Regions from separate parts of the Homo sapiens genome. Here regions 2 and 3 are each linked to region 1. Evidence: fine-mapped expression QTL. A gene starts in region 1. Each other region holds a variant in brackets. All regions are shown on one strand. Distances are from middle to middle.

The links.
Region 2: its variant is fine-mapped to the expression of PIK3CD-AS2 in nasal epithelium (TOPMed, PIP above 0.99).
Region 3: its variant is fine-mapped to the expression of PIK3CD-AS2 in whole blood (TOPMed, PIP above 0.99).

What each region holds. Positions count from the first base shown.
Region 1 is chr1:9,686,257-9,689,093 of GRCh38, forward strand. PIK3CD-AS2 (PIK3CD antisense RNA 2) reads right to left here and starts at 1,318. Exons shown (of 2, transcript NR_126367.1): 1 at 1,079-1,318. All of the region lies in intron 1 of PIK3CD (phosphatidylinositol-4,5-bisphosphate 3-kinase catalytic subunit delta), which reads left to right. RefSeq lists an enhancer at 1,073-1,242 and silencers at 1,293-1,432, 1,758-1,952.
Region 2 is chr1:9,643,520-9,646,356 of GRCh38, forward strand. It overlaps a transcript of PIK3CD not described here. Among named protein-coding and RNA genes, the nearest start is that of PIK3CD, 6.8 kb to the right of the region's middle. The variant T/G (reference allele first, on the strand shown) is at 1,348.
Region 3 is chr1:9,716,060-9,718,559 of GRCh38, forward strand. It overlaps PIK3CD (phosphatidylinositol-4,5-bisphosphate 3-kinase catalytic subunit delta), which reads left to right. Exons shown (of 24, transcript NM_005026.5): 5 at 1-19; 6 at 381-560; 7 at 900-1,049; 8 at 1,478-1,567. It overlaps LOC124903839 (a long non-coding RNA gene), which reads right to left. Exons shown (of 2, transcript XR_007065457.1): 2 at 2,044-2,311. Among named protein-coding and RNA genes, the nearest start is that of PIK3CD-AS2, 30 kb to the left of the region's middle. RefSeq lists enhancers at 1-273, 274-1,249, 2,226-2,500 and a silencer at 1,901-1,970. The variant A/G (reference allele first, on the strand shown) is at 1,412.

The DNA of each region.
Region 1 (2,837 bases):
TTGGCTCCATCATAGCTCACCGCAGACTTCTGGGCCAAGCAATCCTTCTCCCTTGGCCTCCTAAGTAGCTAGGACTACAGGCAAATGCCACCATGCCAGGCTAATTTTCTTTTTTTTTTTTTTTTAGTAGAGACGAGGTCTCACTGTTTTGCCCAGGTTGTTCTTAAACTCCTGGCCTTAAATGATCCTCCCACCTCGGCCTCGCAAAGTGCTGAGATTACAGGCGTGAGCCACCGTGCCCGCCTTAATTTACTCTGATTTTTCTTTTCTTTTTAAAATAGAGACGGGGGTCTCACTGTGTGGCCCAGGCTGGTCTTGAACTCCTGGGCTCAAGTGATCCTCCTGCCCTGGCCTCCCAAAGTGCTGGGACTACAGGCGTGAGCCACTGTGCCAGGTCTACTCTGATATTTAACAGTGGTAAAATTCATTTATCCACTAAATGACTTTATTTATACTCTCACTTAATTTCAGAAAGGACTGAAGGTACCTGAGCTGTGAACAAAGAATCAGAGACTGGTTTTTCCTCCATCTCTGCCACTAACTAGTTGTGCCACCTGGGGCAAGTCACTTGGTCTCCTTGTGTCTGTTATCCATGTGTGAGAGCCAATACTTAATATGAGTGCCAGGCACTGTTCTAGAGATTTTCCATGCATCTGTATTCACTCTTTTAATTCTTCTCTACACAATTTATTAAGGTCTCTATCTTTTTAGAGTTTGTCAGGGCAGTTCCAGTTCATCGTGGCAATACAAGAAAGTCACTTTTGGGGGCTTTTGCCATTTCAAAGAATCTTGGATTTTTCTCTGGGCTCCAGAGACACCCGTGCCTGACACCCCCAATTTGAACCCCCAGCGGATCATTGGGTTCCATTGCTGATGGGGACCTTGTGTTTGAGCTTGACTTTCCCTCCATCCATGCTGGAGATAAACGGAAGTCTTCGCGCAGGGGGACGATTGCAGGACGGGGCCGCTAGGGAGGAGGGCTCCCACACGTGGGGAATGGGGGTGGAGGAACCGCTGAAGCTCGTCTGCCCTTTGGAAAATCTCGTTGGTGTCCTAGCCCTGGGATCATTGTACTTACCAGGTTGGGGGGCTCTGCACCCAGAACTCCTCCCAGCCTCTGTCTGCCCGTCCAAGGTCCGGCGTGACTTCCGGTGGCTGATTTCTCATCTTGGGGAAATCCCCGCCCTGGGGGGGTCCGGTGTGGCCTGCAGGGAGCCTGACTCACCCGTCGGCTGAGTCAGGGGGTCCCAGCTGCCCTCGGATGTCTGCTGCACCGCTCCCCTCCCTCAGGCGGGGGACGGCAGGAAGGAGGGAGAGATGGGAGGGCGTGGGGGCGGGGCCGGGGGCGGTCTCCAGCCCCCGGCCCGGGCTCCGCCCTCTCCCGGGATCTGTGAAAGCACAGCCAGGGTGCGGGCGGGTGAGTGCCCACCTGGTGCAGGGTGTGAAGAGCGAGAGCGCGTGTATGAGCACGAGCGTCTGTGGTCTCTGTGTGTCCGTTTACATGATTGCGCCTGTGTCTGTGTGTGCGCATCTGCATGCGTGTCTTTTTGAGTGAATGTCTGTGTGTGACTTCTAGGGACGGCCAGGGAAGAGGAGTGTCCCCTCCCACCCTGGCCCCCCGTCTTCTCATCCTGGACTCCCTCTCTTCTCTCTCCTCCTTGGGGGGTGCTCTGGGCATCCGGGACCCCTGGCAAGGCTGCCGGGTGCTGGGAGGACGCAGAGGCCGCCGAGGGCGGAGGGAAGCGTCAGGCCTGGCTGCGCGCGCCCTGGCTAGGGAGCTCCGAGTCCCGGCCGCCTGGTCCTTTCATTCTGGGCTTCTTCGAGATTCTCGAGGGCTTCCAGCCGGCAGTGTTTTCTCCTTGCCGTCTTCTCAGGCACGAGGAAGGCTCCTGGAGCTCATCTGCCTGGGATGGGCGGCCCTGCCTTGACCTCACGTGCAGCAATTAGGACCACCAAGGAGTGTTCTTCAAACCACCTTCTACCACCCCGCGGGACACGCCAGGGCTGATTCTGGTGCTCGCACCCCGCTTCCTCCTCTGCGTTCCCCTGTGGCAAAGGTTTGTCTTGGGCTGTGGACCCGAAAGAATATTCTAAGGGGAGATGGGCTCTTGCAGAGCAAGAGGGGTATGGTTTCAGCACCAAACTAAACTGGTGCCAGCGCTAGCTCTGCCCAAGAGGCTGTGCAGACAGTGTTTGTGTGAGTACGTGAGGGTGAGAGTCCCTGCCCGCCTAGCTTCGGCTTCCCCACTTACAACCAAGGGAGAACAACATCTATCTTACAGTGTAGATGCCTGGATAAAAACTGGAGCGCCTGGCCGAGCACTTTGGGAGGCTGACGCGGTAGGATGGCTTGAGCCCAGGAGTTCGAGACCAGCGTAGGCAACATAGTTAGACCCCCGCCTCTACAAAAAATTTTAAAAAATTAGCTGAGTGAGGTGGTGCGCACTTGAGGTCTCAGCTACACGGGAGGCTGGGGTGAGAGGATCGATTGAGCCAGAGAGGTAGAGGCTACAGTGAGCTATGATCGCACCACTGCACCCCAGCCAGGGCAACAGAGCAAGACCCTGTCTCAAAAACAAAAACACTGGAGCGCCCAGAGTTTTTTTTAAGTGCGGGACAAGGATTGTCTCGGTGTTGTTACTGCACGCACACCGCCCGTTGTAATGGATAGATGCATTAGTGAAAGTGCTAGGTACACTCATTTATTTTCTAAATCTCACATATAAGGGAACCCCCGATGGAAAGGCCCATCAGCTAGGGAACAGCCAGCAGGCTGGATTTGAGCCCAGAGCCCGGGCTGGCCAATTACTCGAGTGAGTCTGGCTCCGGCTCTGTGA
Region 2 (2,837 bases), 43 kb before region 1:
AAAATAAATAAATAACTCTTCTAGAGCAGAAACATCCAATCCTGCAAAGCCCAAAGATGCCGTTCTAGAATATAACTAAGATAGCTCAAAAACTCACATTTTCTGAGGGTGCCCTCTGTGTCAGGTACAGTTATAAACATTTTACATATATTAATTCATTTAATCCCAACAGCAGTTCTGAAAGTTGAGCACCATTATTAGTGTCCCCAGGCTACAGATGAGGAAGCAGAGGCATAGAGAGGTTAAGTCACCTAAGGTCACACAGCTCCACAGTGGCAGGGCCAGGCAGTTTGGTTCCAAAGAAGGTGCTCTTAACCCCTAAGCTTCACTATACTTTTCCTGGCCAAAGCAAAGGGTAAAGACTCGAGCTGGGTAGTTTCTGCCTCGCCTGGAAGGAAAAGACCCACACCCAGCAAAGTGGGCTTCCTGCCAGGATGGGGCATGGAGGCAGTGTCTGGAGTCCCTTGTGCAGGGGCTGAAGAAGTGGGCTTCTCACACTTGCAGCCCCCACTCCCTGGGTGCTCAGAGTGGCTGCCCTGTGATAACCCTTCTTATGGGCATGCGTGGGTGGTGGTGGTGAAGCCACTCCGGGTTGAGCAAAACAAAAATGTTTGCAGCATTTGTGAGAAGAAGCTGTGAGTTGCTTGGCTTTTGGAGGGGAAGTTCTGCAGGGACGTTCTGCAGGAGAGGGTTACAGGAAAGAAGAAAGCCTGGGCTGGAGTGGTGGCTCACGCCTGGAATCCCAGCACTTTGGGGGGCTTGAGTCAGGAGGATCACCTGAGGTCAGGAGTTTGAGACCAGCCTGGCCAACATGGTGAAACCCTGTCTCTACTAAAAATACAAAATTAGCTGGGCGTGGTGGTGGGCGCCTGTAGGTAGTCCCAGCTACTTGGGAGGCTGAGGCAGGAGAATCACTTGAACCCAGGAAGCGGAGGTTGCAGTGAGCCGAGATCTCACCACTGCATTCCAGCCTGGATGACGAGGAAGACTCCGTCTCAAATAAATAAATAAATAAATAAATAAATAAATAAATAAATATGTAACCTTCAAGAACAGCCATCATCGTTCTTCAAGTTCCTGATAGAATCGGCTGCTGCCTTCCTCTATGCAGTTTCTGAGCTCTCTAGCTTTATTTTTAACTGTTGTCATGTGTGCCTTGGAGGAAGCTACCTCAAGTTCCCTTTGAATTGTCAAAAAAAATGAACTAGTTGCAGTGGAGAATGGACAGCAATCCTAGAAGAAAAATGGCCCCTTAGCTGCAAGAAAGTCAACCAACATGCATTACTTACATCAGCTCTGGGGCCTTCCGCTCCTTTCTCAGGAAATTAATACTGATTGGGAAATACT[T/G]TGGCCCCATTTGATGGAAGAGAAAAGAGGTGTTAGTCATTAAAGGGTGGGGCTGGTCAGTGGAGAACAGGCTTGGACGGGCAGAAGCACACTGCAGGCCCTTCCGCAGAGCTTGCCCAGATCTCCAGGCCTATTTTTCTTTTCTTTTCTTTTCTTTTCTTTTTTTTTTTTTTTTTTGAGACGGAGTCTTGTTCTGTCACCCAGGCTGGAGTGCAGTGGCGCAACCTCGGCTCACTGCCACCTCCGCCTCCTGGGTTCAAGTGATTCTCCTGCCTCAACCGGTAGCTGGGATTACAGGCACCCACCACCACACCTGGCTAATTTTTGTGTTTTAGTAGAGATGAGGTTTCACCTGTTGGCCAGTCTAGTCGCAAACTCCTGACTTCAGGCGATCCACCTGCCTCGGCCTCCCAAAGTGCTGGGATTAGAGGCGTGAGCCACCGCTTGCCCAGCTTGAATGTTAAATTTAGCTTAAGCTTCCTGGCACCCCAAGCAAAAGAGAGGGTCATGATAAGTCCCTAGGGTCACGGTTTCAAAAAGGAAGTGTATCAGGTTTTCAGGAAAGTGAAACTTCTATTTTATTTTATTTATTTATTTATTTATTTTTTTGAGATGAAGCTTCGCTCTTGTTGCCCAGGCTGGAGTGCAATGGCATGATCTCGGCTCACTGAGGCAATTCTCCTGCCTCAGTCTCCCAAGTAGCTGGGATTACAAGTGCCTGCCACCAGGAATGGCTAATTTTTTTTTTTTTTTTTTTGAGACAGAGTTTCGCTCTTGTTGCCCAGACTGGAGTGCAATGGCATGATCTTGGCTCACTGCACCTCTACTTCCTGAGTTTAAGCAATTCTCCTGCCTCAGCCTCCTGAGTAGCTGGGATTACAGGTGCCCGCCACCATGCTCAGCTAATTTTTTGTATTTTTAGTAGAGATGGGGTTTCACCTGTTGGCCAGCATGGTCGTGAACCCCTGACCTCAGGTGATCCACCTGCCTAGGCCTCCCAGAGTGCTGGGATTACAGGCATGACACTGTGCCTGGCCGTATTTTTATTTTTTATTTTTTATTTTTTTATTTTTATTTTTATTTTTAGTAGAGATGGGGTTTTGTCACGTTGGCCAGGCTGGTCTCAAACTCCTGGCCTCAGGTGATCCGCCCACCTCAGCCTCCCAAAGTGCTGGGATTACAGGCGGGAGCCACCGCACCTGGCCGAAAGTGAAACTTCTTAGGACAGAGGCCTAACGAGACCCATGGCATGGTGAAAGTAGCAAGGATCTGGAAGAAGTTATTATAATAGATATTTATAGACTGTGTGGCCCTGAAAAAGGACTCAACTTTCCTGAGCCTCAGTTTTCTCATCCGTAAATTGGGGATAAGATTTACCTTGCTGGGCGGTTGTACGTATCAGGGAGAAAATATAACTTCTCCTCAGCCCCGGTAAGTTCATAGTTGGGACAGCCCGCCGTAACAAAAGACAGATTCACGTGAAAACCAAG
Region 3 (2,500 bases), 30 kb after region 1:
TAAGTTTGAGGGCAGCGAGGTGAGCCCATGCGTGGCCTGCGGCATCCAGGCTGCTCTGTCCATGGGGAGCACTTCCTCTGTGAAACTCCTCAGTCATCCGCAAGCCCCCCTCCCCCAGTGGCATCAGATGGTGTTTGCCAGGTGTCTGTGCATGTGTGGGGCTCAACTGAACGTCCCCCCAGGCAAGCTCAACGTGGCAGGATAACCAAGTGGCGTGGGGCATTGGGCATCAGTTTGTTCATTCTTTGAACAAATATTTCCCAGTGTCATTTGTGAACTCCCCAGACCCTACCCTTGGGGGCAAATAGGCAACCCTGCCCTGTGCCCCAGAACCCCGGGGGGCCTCGAGGGCAGAGGACTGACCTCCCTCCTCCCCACAGGAGAGCTTCACCTTCCAGGTGTCCACCAAGGACGTGCCGCTGGCGCTGATGGCCTGTGCCCTGCGGAAGAAGGCCACAGTGTTCCGGCAGCCGCTGGTGGAGCAGCCGGAAGACTACACGCTGCAGGTGAACGGCAGGCATGAGTACCTGTATGGCAGCTACCCGCTCTGCCAGTTCCAGGTGAGGCCGCTGAGGCCCTCTGCACTCTGGGCTCCCAACGCCCTGGATAGGGCCTGGGTGGGAGTCGGGGAGCTGACATTTGGGCGCACCTTGAGCCTGCCGAGCCAGGCCTTTGGGTCACCGCCAGAGCATCCCCTGGTAGGGCTGGCCCTCTCTGAGAGCACAAGGAGGGGCTCCGTCTTGGGAGGTGGAGGTGGGGCAGGAAAAACCAGCAGGAAGCCCTCCCCTCTCCCAAGGCCTAGGACAGGCAGTGGGCAGCTTGGGGGGTCCTGGGAATCCTGGTGTCCAGGGAGTGGTTGGGGCCGCCCCACCAGCCGCTCACCCTGCACCCCGTCTCAGTACATCTGCAGCTGCCTGCACAGTGGGTTGACCCCTCACCTGACCATGGTCCATTCCTCCTCCATCCTCGCCATGCGGGATGAGCAGAGCAACCCTGCCCCCCAGGTCCAGAAACCGCGTGCCAAACCACCTCCCATTCCTGCGAAGAAGGTGAGATGGCGCCTTCCGCCTCCCCTCTGAGCCACCCCTTCTTTCCACCTGGCGTCCAACTCCATGTGCTACTGGCCATGGGTCCAGGGGCCCTTGGTATGGAGAGCTGGGGCTTTGAGCTGGGGAAGCCAACACAGCTGACCAGCGTCCTGGGCTGGGGGCCTGTGGGACTGCCGTGGGTGGGGGGCAGCCCCATGCCTGGCTCACCGGCTGCCCTTCCCCTCTGCAGAGCTCAGGGGTGTTGGGGCCCCCTGGGGAGCCCGCATGGCAGGTTTTCTGGGAAAGGATAGCATTGTGGACAGGCCCAAACCTGGCCGCAAACCTGTGACCCTCTCACCCGCCCCCAAGTGGTCACGGGCCTC[A/G]CCATAGGCCAGGGAGACAAGCTGCACTTTGAGCCGTGTTAACAGCCCTGCTTCCCCGGCCCCCAGCCTTCCTCTGTGTCCCTGTGGTCCCTGGAGCAGCCGTTCCGCATCGAGCTCATCCAGGGCAGCAAAGTGAACGCCGACGAGCGGATGAAGGTGGGGCTCCTGGGATAGGTGGGAGAGACACTGTTTTTTTGCACAAACAAGGTGGCTGTATCCTGGAGGGGTAGCAGAGGAAGGAGGGGGATCACATGAAAGCCACCTGACCACATTACCCAGCATCCCTGCCTGGGGCGCTGTGAGCGGCTTGAAAACAGGAAGTGGGGAGGGGGTGGGCCAGCCGGCCCTGGAGGCTGATTCGTAGAAACTTGGGCCAAGCAGCGTTCTGGGTATTTGACTTTGGTGGAGGTTATGGGGCCAGGTTCAGCCCAGGGATCCGGGACCGCAGAGCTGGGGGAAGGGCCGGGCATGGAAGAGGGGCTGGGTCCAGCTGGGCTGGGGGCTGTGGTGCTCCCTGGAGGCACCAGGGCGGTGCCTGCAGCCTGTGAGGGCTGCACCTGCCTCAACCTCTAGGGGCTGAGCCCACCTCCCTGTTGTCTCTTAACACTTTCACACGCTCCATCGCAACAGCCTGCAGTCATGGGCTTTATTGTCCTGTTTGCTGGACATGATACCTGAGTCCTCAGAGGTTGGCCCTCCTGCCTGGAGTGTGTTTCACTGGGGAAATCGTATAAGCAGGGCAGGTCTGGGTTCCACTGGCAGGAATCGAGGGGGACTGGATCAGAGGGACTTCCAGGGTGGTGGTGTCAGGTGGAATTGGAAGGGGCCGGACATCAGGTGGCAGGAAAAGTCCTTCCCCACCCACATGGGCTCATAGGAATCTGAGAAGTCCAGGGAGCCCTAGGATGTTAGAGCAAGGGTCCCTGAAGTTCTTGATCCCTGATGGGGAAACTGAGGCCTGGAGTGGGGAATGGACATGCCCCGAGGTCCCCAGAGTTGGGGTAGCTGAGACAGGGCACCCATGCACAGCCCGTGGTACCCTCCCTCACCCCAGGGCCGCTCATGCCCCTCAGGCCTTCCCTGTGCTGC